Linked DNA regions of Homo sapiens. The main gene of each other region encodes a partner of the protein of the gene in region 2 in a complex. Each region holds a gene or a part of one and is shown on either strand. Other genes may lie near its edges. The genes, in order: CUL7 and OBSL1.

Region 1 (7,281 bases), on a different chromosome or scaffold from region 2:
TGGGAGGCTGAGATGAGAGGATCGCTTGAGGCAGGAGTTCAAGACTGGCCTGGTCAACATAGCAGGACCCCATCTTTAAAAATAAGAAATAAGCATAAAAAAATAGAAAAGGCCAGGTGCGGTGGCTCATGCCTGTAATCCCAGCACTTTGGGAGGCTGAGGTGGGTGGATCACCTGAGGTCGGGAGTTCGAGATCAGCCTGACCAACACGGAGAAACCCCACCTCTACTAAAAATATAAAATTAGCCAGGTGTGGGTCAGGCGCGGTGGCTCATGCCTGTAATCCCAGCACTTTGGGAGACTGAGGCGGGTGGATCACCTGAGATTGGGAGTTCGAGACCAGCCTGACCAACATGGAGAAACCCCATCTCTACTAAAAATACAAAATTAGCTGGGCATGGTGGCCCATGCCTGTAATCCCAGCTATTTGGGAGGGTGAGGCAGAAGAATCACTTGAACCCTGGAGGCAGAGGTTGCAGTGAGCCGAGACTGCGCCATTGCACTCCAGTCTAGGCAACAAGAGCGAAACTCTGTCTCAAAAAAATAAAATAAAATAAAATAAAATTAGCCAGGCATGGTGGTGCATGCCTGTAATCCCAGCTACTTGGGAGGCTGAGGCAGGAGAATTGCCTGAACCTGGGAGGCAGAGGTTGCAGTGAGCCAAGATCATGCCATTGCACTCCAGCGTGGGTAACGAGCGAAAATCTGTCTCAAAAAAAAAAAAAAGAAGAATGATAAAGGGAGTGGGTAACAAGGCACCTCCAGCACTTATGGTGTCCCCTGACACTTGAGAGACATGGGAAAGGGGGCAGCCCCTGGGCTGTGAGAAGACAGCACTGGGATTACAAATGCAGGTGCCAAAAGGGCCAGGACATAATCCAGGTGGTTCTAGGGTAGAGCAAGAAGGAACTAATTAGTGGAACCAAGCCCTGAGATAGTAATGGGTCCAGATGTCAGGATGGTTACCAGGGGAGGTGATGTTCTGCACCACGGGGCTGACCAGGGCCTCCCAGCAGGTCTTGCCCAGAGCTTGGGCAGCCTCGTCATCAGGGAGGAAGCGGTCAGCAAAATTCTGCTCCTGGCGCAGAGCACCGTTGAGTCTGGGGGTGAGAATGGAGGAGGAAGGTGTCAGGGGCTTGAAGCATATGTTATCTCAGTGTCCACCCTTCCTAAGACTGCCAGCTAACCCCAGCACCCAAACCGAAGGCCCCCTGGTACTTCAGAACTGCTCTGTGCTAACTGGTATATCCCATTCCCAGCCCACTGGAGAAATCTTTTCTCTTTATCCTTTCTTCCCCTCCCACAGCTCAGAAAACTCCAGCCCCCTCCCCACGCATATTAAACCTCCATCTCACAGCTTCTATGGACCCCTGCCTGCCAGCTATTTGCAATAGCCTTACCTTTCCCACAGACACAAGCATACACGCACACTCTCACACACCTAGAACTCAGGTGCAGGAGGCTCCTGCGGTCCTCTGCCATGTCCTGGCTCCAGGCCTGTGCCCGAACCATGTAGAAGAGGCGTGTGTGACGACAGAGCTGCTCCCGGAACACTGGCCAGAACGTGGGCTTGGGGCCTAGGATCTCTAACCCCCGAATGCGCGTATCAATGCCACCCTGAAACACACACAGGACTATCTTCACTCGCTCCACACCTTGGGATGGGCTGGGGTCAGCTACGCCCTCGAACCTCACCCCTGGAGCTGCTCGAGACCCAGGCTGGTCCTCTGGCTTAAGATCTGCCTGTTTATGGGGCTCAGAGCCCCCTACCCAGGGCCACACCCCACATCCCTGGCCCCACCTGCTGGCAGCGCTTTATGCGGATCTGGATGATGGGCCAGAAGCGGGTCAGGTTCTCCAGGAGGATCACCCGGCTGGCAGAGGGCATCACATTCACCTGGCAGGGGGCAGAGAAAGCTGTCACCTCCACACATGCAGAGCCAAGTTGGCTCTAGGCTCCAGTCCCCTCACTGTTTCCCTCCCTTCCCCAGCCCTGGGATGTGTAGGGTCCTGACAAAGCTGTCCTCATGCCACCCTCATTGTTCAGGGCCTGGTGGCACAAGCACAGGGATAAAGGACACTACTTTCTGTGGGGCTCAAGACAGGTGGGAGTTAGAAAAAAGTAGGATAGGGCCAGATAGAAGCAGGAGGGCAGATCCTGTGAGGGGTGGAGTAATGGCTAATGGCCCTGGGGTCCTACCGAGTTGAGTTCCGTGTGAAGAGAGCTAGTGCTATCACCCCCGCACACCACCACTCGGGCCGGCATGTAACTCGAGTCCTCACTAGCCACAAGCAGAGTCAGTTGCCTGGGAGTGGGGAGGAAAAACCATTTGGAACTTGTAGACAGGGCCCATGGCCAAGTCCAGGGGGTGGTGCTTCCCCCAAAACAAACACAGGGGCGTCACAGGAAAGCACACGTGTGTGGCAAAGCACATGTGTGGGAGAGTTACCTGATGAGGATGCCCCGGCGCATGTGCAGGGTGATGTAGTGGGAGCCGGCGCTGCCGTTGGACTCCCAATAGGTCTTGGGGTTGTGGTCCGTCAGCTTGCTGGCCCGGTGCGGGTTGGAGGACACCTCCACCTTCTCCCAGCACTTGTCCTCCTTCACTTCCACACTGGAGCCTGGGGGCAAGTGGGAAGGGGTGGTGGTCACGGTCAGGTAGGGTGTAGAGGGGAAACAGACATAGGTGTGGGGAGGTGGAGCAACACGGCAACAGGCACGAACCCTGGCACAGGTATCTGAGGAACACATCAAAGAAAGGGATGTTGATGGGTTGGTGGGTTCGTCTGTGGTCTTCGATCTGGCCCAGCACCATCTGCAGCCAGAACATCAGAGAGAAGGGGCACAGGGGCAGAAGGAACACGGAGACACACACGGAAACACGGATGAAGGAGAGACCATGCAGCAGTGGGACTTCCTCTACAGCACCAGCAGAGCAGGCCCAGATGGGGCAGAGGGGAAGGGGAACAAATGCCCCAGGGTCACTAGAGTCACCTGCTGTTCCCAGCCATGGGAACACAGCCCTTACCCGCCACTGCTTGGGTTTCATATTCTGATGCCACTCTAAGCCCACAAGCTCCCCTTCCTCCTGACCTGGATGCAGCCTCCCAGGATGTTGGTGATGAGTTTGCGGTAGAGGTGGGCATGCTTCTCACACTTGAACACCATGTCCCGCAGCTCCTGAGCCAGCTCCAGCTTTCCCAGGTGCTTTTCCAGGGCCTTGGAGATAGCGTCTCTTGCTCCCAGCTGATTCAGCACCACGGCATAGTCCCTGCTCACTGAGGTCAGGCGGTGCAGGAAGAAAATCAGTTCCTGGAGCACCTGGGTGGGGACATAAGGGAGGAGATGAATGAAGACAGGGCGAGGGCCACAAGGGCACCTGCAGTAGCAGGTACCCACTGTGTACTCTGTGTACTGGGTGCTAGGGGTGCTACAGTGAGCAAGGCAGAGTGACGAAGTGAAAAGACAGGGATGGGGAGACACAAGAGCCAGGTGGTTAGAGAACCAAAGACAAACCAAAATGGAAAAGGGCACAAGATGCCCTGCTACTCTAGGGTTCTAGGCTGCTGATTATGTTGGCAAAAACGGCAGAGAGCATCCCTGGGTTCTTTCATCCAGGCCCTACTGTCCCAAAAACCAGTTGTAGGGCTGTGTTTTGAGATGTTCAGGCACAGACACCTGGATGGCTGGGAAGGGGCTGACAGGGACTGGGTTTGTGTGTGTATTATACCCAATGAGCCTGCCTTAGAAAGTAAATTCTAGGTAACAGCCAAAAATATAGCCACACTGCAAATACCTACTGTCACCATGACCCTAGTTCTCTGAGCCCTTCTGAAGCCTTCTGTGCCCAGGACTTCTCTGTAGCTCTTGCAGGGGACTCTGGTATGTGATGGGCGCTCTGCCTCCTTCATCCCCCTTTCTCCCACAGGCCCAGCCAAAAATGGAGCTATTGAAGCTCTTAATGTTTTATGTAATAATATCTCCATATCCTTTTGTGTAAAAAAGAGAGTGGCAAGATCACACATTTGGGTTTGCTTATATTTGCATAAGGGAACACGGGAAAGATACATAAATTAATACAAGTAGTTACCAGTAAGGGGTGTGTGGGGGACCCTGGGGGAACAGAGATTTGGGTGAGAGCAAGAATTCTCAGTGTATACCTTGTTAGAGCGTTTTGATTTGTGAACCATGTGAATGTATTACCTATTTAAAAAAAATAAAATTCAATTTTAAAAGCAAAACTCAAACCAAGAGCTCAAAGGCTCTATCACGCCCTCCAGAGCCTTGCCCAGCAGGTGTGCCTTGCCAGTGGCTGCCTTTATCCTCTCCCCCAGCCTCTCCCCAGAGCAGGGCAGGGGTACCTCTCGATCAGTGTTTGGGGACCGCAGGCAGGCCATGCAGGCATCCACGGCCTCGTGCCAGGGGAGCAGCAGTGCCTCGGGGAAGTCCACCAGCTGCTTCAGGATTCTGGGGGCAGAGAAATGTGTAGCCAGCCTCATGGACCCCCTTTGCCCTCAGAGATCCCACCTGTCACCATGCTCTCACCTCAGCACAGTCAGGTGCAGGGTCCTGTTAGTCTCCGGAGTGTCCAGGCTCTGCATCAGTGCCAGGAAGGGCTGCGGCTGCCGCTGCAGCTGCAGCAGGAGTGGCTTGACCTTGTTCTCCTGGGTCCCCTCTGAGCTGAGGGCTTGCTCTAGATCCAGGAGGATTTTCCCAGCTGGACCATAACCCTCCACCAGACGCTGCAGGGGAGTGTTGGGACTCTGAGATGGGGGTTCTTTTGCTACAGGAAGGGGACAGTCACAGGAGTTGGCCATTGTTAGTAATGTGAAGGCTCAGAAATAGATTCATAACTCTCAATCTTTTTCTCTAATTTCTCCTAAAAAATGTTTTAAATTTTTTAATCCCCCTAAAAGTTAGGTTTGGGGATCTAATCTCTGAATGTCATTGTAAGACAGCTTCATGACAAATTTTATATTCTTTTTTTTTTTTTTTCTTTGAGACGGAGTCTCGCTCTGTCACCCAGGCTGGAGTGCAGTGGCATGATCTCGGCTCACTGCAACCTCCGCCTCCTGGGTTCACGCCATTCTCCTGCCTCAGCCTCCAGTAGCTGGGACTACAGGTGCCCACCACCACGCCCGGCTAATTTTTTTTTTTTTGTAGTTTTAGTAGAGACGGGGTTTCACCATGTTAGGCAGGATGATCTCGATCTCCTGACCTCATGATCCACCTGCCTTGGCCTTCCAAAGTGCTGGGATTACAGGCGTGAGCCACCATGCCCGGCCTTTATATTCTTAAAATAGCAAAGTAGCTTCATCTGAAAACAGGAGAGCACTTCCCTTTATTTCAAAGCATGGAATATGTTTCTGTACAAGAGAAAAAGCTAAATGTGGGGGCTTTTTTAAGTCTTCAAAATTCTCTTGCAATTTTCTAACTTTACATCCTCCTTCATTCTTTGAGGGAACACAATGCCTGCTTCTCCGTTTGTTGCTTCTCTCTAAGTTGCAGCTTCTAAGGTGGCATCACTTCCAGAAAGGATTGCATAAAAATCAGCACAGACATCTCTCCTGTGCTACTGCCCTGAAGGTGTGTCAGCTCAGCTGCTGTGTCTGGCACCCACCTTCCACTTTGGCTGCATCTTCTGAGTCCTTAGCCTGGGCCTGCGCGTCTAGCAGGAGGACATCTTCTTGGGCTTCTAGAAGGGATGGGTAGGCTTGGTTCCCTGCTAGGGCTTCAGGCCCATACTTCTTGTAGACATGGCAGTTGATCAGGTCCCTGAGGGCACTGTCATTGAGTCGCTGTGGCAGAGTCAGCAGCAAGTCCTGGGCCAATTCTATGGGCACGGCCAGTTCAGCTAGGATCTCATCATCCAGAATCTGCCATCAAGGAGAAGCTCTCACTGCAGACAGCCCTGCCGACCCAGAGGCCCCAGGGAGCACTTGGTAGGGGTGGGGGTCTCTCTGCACACATACCCTCCATCCTGATCCTCTCACAGCTGGCAGCTGGCTCCTCCCAAACAGCTCACCCTCCCACCTCTGAAAATTCCAGACCCCTCCTCTGCAGCCCCTTCCACTCTCTGACCTCCACTTTTCATCCTGAGCCTTCCAAATGCTCTATACAGTCCAGCCCTTGCAATAGAGCCCTCCAACCTCTGAGTGTCTCCAGGCTGGCTCTACCTCCCCATCTAGGTTCTCCTGGAGGATCTGGAGAACCTCCTGATGGTCAGGTCCATCCAGCTTCTTGATGAAGAAGAGGAGTTCCCACCACTCAGCCAGGGTCAGGTGTTCACACTCCTCAGTGTCCTCATCCTCAGGCAGCACATAAGGCACAGCATAGAGTTCTGTCATGGGCCTCCAGCGCCAGGCAGGCAGGGCTGTGAAAATGGGCCAAGGGGCACAAGGATGTCACTAGCAACTCAGCAGGACCACCATTCCTCTGCTCAGAGCTGACCCTTGCTTCCTCCCTGAGCTCACCTCTACCCAGGACTCTACTGGCCACTGCCCCTTGGTACTCATCAGCCTCAACCATGTCCTCAATGTCTTCCTCAAAGCCCAAGATCTCCAGCATGTGCCAGTGCACCCAATAGGTGCGGCCTGTTGACTCCCAAAATACCTGGAGCATAGGGAAAGAAAGAGGGAAGGGGAAGGGAGGACTCACAAATGACTGGCTGTGGCCCAGTACTGAGGACTATAGCCCTCAGGGTGACCACCTGGCCAGGTTTTAGAAAAACCTCCACATAACAAAACAGCAGCATATGGAGAATACACACACACACACACACACACACACACACACACACACACACACACACACACACACAGGATGCCTTCTCCTTTGGGGGATGGGCCTGTCTCTCCTCTCACCCTGTCTTTCATGGCTTATGCCCCCACACTTCCTTCTGGCCTCCACCACTCCATCTCCCTGACCCTGACCTTTGGAGGAGTCTGGCTATATCAGTTTCTTCCCAGGTGTGAGTCTTCTTGACTTCACAGCCTCCTAAACCCAGATTTTCCCAGCTCTCAGAATGGCCCCCCTCTCAACTACTGACTCTTTTCACCATTCCAATCTTACCTAAAGCTTTCTCTTTGGGTGGCCTGCTGGAGCCCCCCCATATAGAAGTCCCAGCTCTGCCCTACCCCAAATAGACCCCCAACAGTATCCCACCACCATGTGCCACTCACCTGCACAGGAGGCACACCGTTGTTGCTCTGCCGAAACTCGCCCTCATCCCCGGCACTGATCTCCTCATAATCATCCAGCATCCGCACTCGCATCCCCGG
Region 2 (4,593 bases):
AGGGTTTCTCCAGGCTCAGCCCCACCTCTTCACTCCCTGCCAAGGTCCCATGGGCCACCTCCTGCATGTCTCCGCGGAGGGGCTACCTTCCTTCCCATCGCCCTGCCTCGCAGCCAGACTCATCTAAGGGTTCTTGTCCTTGTCTATGGGGCAAACTGTAGCATCCCTCACCCTGGTCCCCTGGCCTCTGTAAAGCCACCAGCCTGAGGGCAGTGGCAGGAGATGGGGGTGGGGGGGTGCTGCTCTGGGCTGGGTTGGGAAGGGAGTTGGGGAGGGGTTTAAATGCACGGTGCATGTCTGGTGTCTGTCATGCCAACCTAGACACCTCATGCTTCTGTCTCCCCCACCCCACTCTGTTTTACATCTTTTATAAATGTGCCAAACTGTGTGGCCTCTGCCAGGAATGGTGGTCTTTGGTGGCTGGCACTTTCATGGGCCAGGTACAAGCACTACAGCCCTCGGTCCCCAGTGTCGCTCACTGCACAGGGGCTCCAGGCAAGGTCTGCCCCCCCACATCACTCAGAGAGGCAAGGAAATGAGCTGTAGCACTTTTATTGTTCCTTGTCTCTCTACCCCTGCCCAGGGTAAGGGCAAACGCCTTCCAAGCTGTCCAAGGGCACCCGCCTGGCCTGGTTAGGTTCTCCTAGTTGCCTGCAGAGGAATGACTCCACATGGGGCTGGGGAGAGAAGGGGGTACCACCTTCCTCTCCCCTGGCAGAGCCTGGACACCAGTACACAAAGAGCTGGGCCCCCAGGTTCTGCCCTACCCTTTCTGGGCCTTGGTTAGGGCTGTCTTGGCGGCAGGAAGGTGGGGGTCAGCTAGGGGTGGGGCACAGCGCGGCACCTGAAGGGAATGCTGGGATTTGGGATAGAAGGTGGGATGTCTCTTATGGGGAAGAGGAAAGAAAGAGGCTTCTGCCAAGGCTGACATGGAACTTGCTGAGATGGGCAGAGGCAAGCTGGGCAGAGGGCAGGAAGGAGGAGGGACAGGCTGGAGGAAGGCAGTGTTGGTGAAGTGGGGAGGAAAGGAACTGGTAGAAACAGGGCTGTTCAAGAGAGACAAACATGGTCCAGTGGCAGGAGAGAGGAGAAGCCTGGCAAGAAGGGGCGTAGAAAGGTGGGAACAGCTGACCAGGAGCAGCTGATCTGAGCCAAGCAGTTCCAGGGCTTTCCAGCCCTGGGTGTGCTCTACCCCTCCCCTCCCCCATCCCCACCTCCTACGTATCCCAGGACCCGTTGCCACCCCAAGTTCTGGAAAGCCTCCCATAGGTGTGGCTTAACCCATCAGCTCCCAGGCGCCCTCACCCTCCTGCCGCTGCCCAGTTGGCTTTACTCACCCTCTACCAGCAGCCGTGTGTGGGTGCTGTCCTGGCCGGCCTGGCAGCAGTAAGTGCCTTGGTCCTCAGGTCGAACGTCATGGATGACCAGGCTGTGGGTGGGGCCGTGGCTGCGCATCTCATACTTATCTCCCGGGCACAGCTCGGCCCCCTCCCGCAGCCAGCACACGTGGCCCCCCGAGCGGGACACAGTCACCTCCAGCACCGCCCGGCGGCCCACCAGAACGGTCTTCTCGCGAGGGGGGTGGCGGCACATCTGGAGAGGCAATGCTGGGGGTAGGGGGCGGGGGCTTAAGTTAATAGGGACACGCATGGCCCCCAGGAGGAGAGATGCATCTTCCCTCCCTGAAGTCTCCACTCCTGGCCTTAGCCCTCTATGCCACCAGTCCGTTCCCTTGCACCTCAGACCCAAAGTCTCCTCTTGCCGGGGAAACGCGCTGCCCTCTGTGACCCGGCCCAGGAGAGCCCCTCGGGGGGAAGGGAAGAGAGAGGCAGCGTTCTTGGGGCCAGCCCCAAGTCCGTCAGTCCCATGGCAGGAGAGACAGGATGTACACTCTCTGTCGCTCCCACCCCAGGTGCTTACCCTCCACTTCCAGTAGAGCCAGGGACTGGGCGGGCCCCGCCTGGAAGCGGACTTCACCGGCGTCCTCGGCGCGCAGCTCGCTAAGCACCAGAATGTGTTTCTTCCCTGGGGGTGAGGGGGTCGCTAGCGAGGCCGGAGCCACCTCTGAGGAGCGTTGGGGACGAAGGTGGGGGCCCAGCAGGCCCCTGGGTCGGTTCGGACGCCGTTAGTGTATGCTAGGGTGGGCGGAACAGGGATGCGGAGCGGGAAGCCTAGAGGTCCGGGACTAGGGGCTGGGGGCGGGGGAAAGAACAGGGACGAGGCTCACAGGGCCGTGGGGCGGGGCCCGTCGGAGCCAGGGGCGGGGCTTGTCCCGGTGGGGCGGGATCTGTTCGAGCCTGGGCGGGGCAGCGAGGGGCCCGAAAGGGTAACCAGGCGGGCAGACCTTCCTGTCGGATGCGGACGCGGGCTCCGGGTCTCAGCGGGCGGCCTCCGAGCTCCCAGCGCCCCGTGGTCTCGACCTCCGACACGGTGCACTCGAACGTAGCGCCGTCGCCTTCGCGGGCGCTCACCGACCGCAGCTCGGAGAGTACCGCCACAGTACGCTCTGGGGCGGAGCCCGGGGCGTGAGCGGGGCGGGGCAGAGGGCAGTTACCGGTCACGCCCCCTCCACGCCCCCTTTCTAGAAGCACGCGCGGTCATCAGGGTCCGGGGAAGACAGCTCCGCAAGTCTCGCGCCCAAAGCAGTGCCCAGCCTCCACATCACCCCGTACCCACCGCGCACGGTCAGGCGGACCGGTCCGGCGCGGGCCGTCCCCACCGCGCAGCTGTAGGTCCCGGCGTCCGAGGGGCCGCAGCGTCGCAGCTGGAGAAGGCGGCGCGTGCCGAGGGCCTGGAGCCGGAGCCGCGGGCTAGGCGTAAGCGCGTTCCCGTCCTAGGGGCGGGAGTTGCAGAGGGTCGGGGCGAGCCCGGCTGGGCACAGGCGACCCCGGCCCTGGCAGGCGGCGCACCCTTTGTTGATGCCAAGCGGTCTCGAGGCGCGTTTATGCGTGTCTCGTGTTCCCAGGCTGGGGTCGGACTGTCCCCAAGCCTTTGGGGTCGTGCCAGGAGCCTCTTTGAAAAAGCGTCACCCTTTGGGGACCTTAGGGCCGCCAAGGCACTCGGGAAGCCCAGAGCCAGGTATCGATCACAGGGGACATGGGCACGGATTCTGGAGTTAGGCAAACCTGGATTCGAATATGGGCTCTACCTGTTGTCTGCCCTTGGGTAGGTAATTTTTCCCACTGAGCATCAGTTTCCTGATAGGTATTACAGTGACAAGACCTACCTCCTAGAGTTGTCCTTGGAGTAAGGGATTAAATATAATGCAAATCTTAGCACAGTGCCAGGCACATCCGCTCAAGGAATATTAGCTGTTTCTGTCTGGGGCATTATTATCGTTGGTGTTACACTGAAGTGGGCTTGGCTGGGGCTGGGATCTGACCTTCTCCCAGGTAACATCAGCCAAAGCTTGGGAAAGCTCGCACTCGAACGTAGCTGTGTCGCCCTCGGTCACCTCTAGGTCGTGTGGCCCCCGCACGATGGTCACTGGGACCTCTGGGGGTGGGAGAGGGAGGACAGTGCAGAGGGAGCAGGATGGGGACCCATCTTGCAGGGACAAGGAGGACATACACTTGGGCACAACAGGCAGTAGAGGACACTAGCGAGTGGGGTTCGAGCTGGGACAAGTGGTCCAAGAAGGATCTGTCAGTGGTGGGGGTGGGGGGGATGTAGGTGGGCAGGGCCACAGGGCCAATGGGTTAGGAGTGGCCAACTGGGAGTCACACTTTAAGGTGGTCAGTGGGGGAGAAGCTGGGGGCCAGAGGGCAATGGGGAAACAAGCAGAGATGCCAGTGGAGTGGTCAGTGGGAACATCCTGGGACTGGAAGTAAAAATGGGGGACACTCAAGCAGACTTGCTAGTGATGTCGCCCGTAGGCAGTCAGTGGATTCAAGGGACTGGAGTGGTCACGGGGCCCACACTTAGGCGGGCAGAGGGAGCCACGGCAGACAGTGTAGCCAGTAGGGTCACAGTTAGAGTGGTCAGTGGGGTGGTGTGCAGGCGGGCAGACAGCAGTGACCACAATGGCAAAGGCATGCTCTTGGTAGCAGAGTCAGTGGTTGGCTGAGCCTTGGGCAGTCAGGGGCCACACCCAGGCAGAGGACTCTGGGGCCACACAGGGCCTATGAGTCAGGGGGATCACACTCTGGCAGGGATGTCAATGAGGGCCACACTGAGACAGGCATGGTCAGTGGGGGTCACACGAGTTGGGGGTCAGTATTCATGCCTGGGGTAAGTAGGGCCACACAGGTCAGCAGGCAGGCTGTGGTCCTGGAGGCCACACCTCTCACAATGAGTCTGGCTGCGCAGCGCAGGGAATCCGCTGTGAAGGAGACACAGCCTGAGTCGGCCAGGCCCAGGCCATTGAGTACCAGTCGGTGACGGTGGCCGTCCGAGTGGATGTGACACTTGGGTCCTGGATACAGCTGTACTCCACCCCGGGCCCACTCCCCGGTCACACCTTCCTGGGACAGCTCCAGCTGGAAGGTGGCACTGCCCCCCTCACTGATGGTCACGTCCTCCAGAGGCCGCAGCACCCTCAGCTGCCTCGCTGGCCGGGGGAGATGGAGAGAGGGAGGATGAGGCCTCCAGCTC

What was found.
Region 1: OBSL1 (region 2) and CUL7 share a complex: the UniProt entries of both Homo sapiens proteins name them as parts of the 3M complex.

The regions. Positions count from the first base shown.
Region 1 is NC_000006.12:43,043,786-43,051,066, forward strand, and holds part of CUL7 (cullin-7), read right to left. Parts: coding exon 7,183-7,281; intron 6,614-7,182; coding exon 6,475-6,613; intron 6,375-6,474; coding exon 6,178-6,374; coding exon of another isoform or gene 6,151-6,177; intron 5,878-6,150; coding exon 5,622-5,877; intron 4,785-5,621; coding exon 4,547-4,784; intron 4,469-4,546; coding exon 4,363-4,468; intron 4,205-4,362; exon of another isoform or gene 4,192-4,204; coding exon of another isoform or gene 4,162-4,191; intron 3,323-4,161; coding exon 3,095-3,322; intron 2,817-3,094; coding exon 2,726-2,816; intron 2,623-2,725; coding exon 2,451-2,622; intron 2,307-2,450; coding exon 2,201-2,306; intron 1,898-2,200; coding exon 1,802-1,897; intron 1,618-1,801; coding exon 1,442-1,617; intron 1,362-1,441; exon of another isoform or gene 1,101-1,361; coding exon 967-1,100; exon of another isoform or gene 1-966. UniProt on the Homo sapiens protein: Core component of the 3M and Cul7-RING(FBXW8) complexes, which mediate the ubiquitination and subsequent proteasomal degradation of target proteins. Core component of the 3M complex, a complex required to regulate microtubule dynamics and genome integrity.
Region 2 is NC_000002.12:219,550,192-219,554,784, forward strand, and holds the end of OBSL1 (obscurin-like protein 1 isoform 1 precursor), read right to left. Parts: intron 4,550-4,593; coding exon 4,283-4,549; intron 3,496-4,282; coding exon 3,383-3,495; intron 2,834-3,382; coding exon 2,677-2,833; intron 2,507-2,676; coding exon 2,345-2,506; intron 2,026-2,344; coding exon 1,921-2,025; intron 1,608-1,920; coding exon 1,338-1,607; intron 1,095-1,337; coding exon of another isoform or gene 1,051-1,094; exon of another isoform or gene 678-1,050; coding exon of another isoform or gene 652-677; coding exon 644-651; coding exon of another isoform or gene 634-643; 3' UTR 537-633; downstream 1-536. UniProt on the Homo sapiens protein: Core component of the 3M complex, a complex required to regulate microtubule dynamics and genome integrity. It is unclear how the 3M complex regulates microtubules, it could act by controlling the level of a microtubule stabilizer.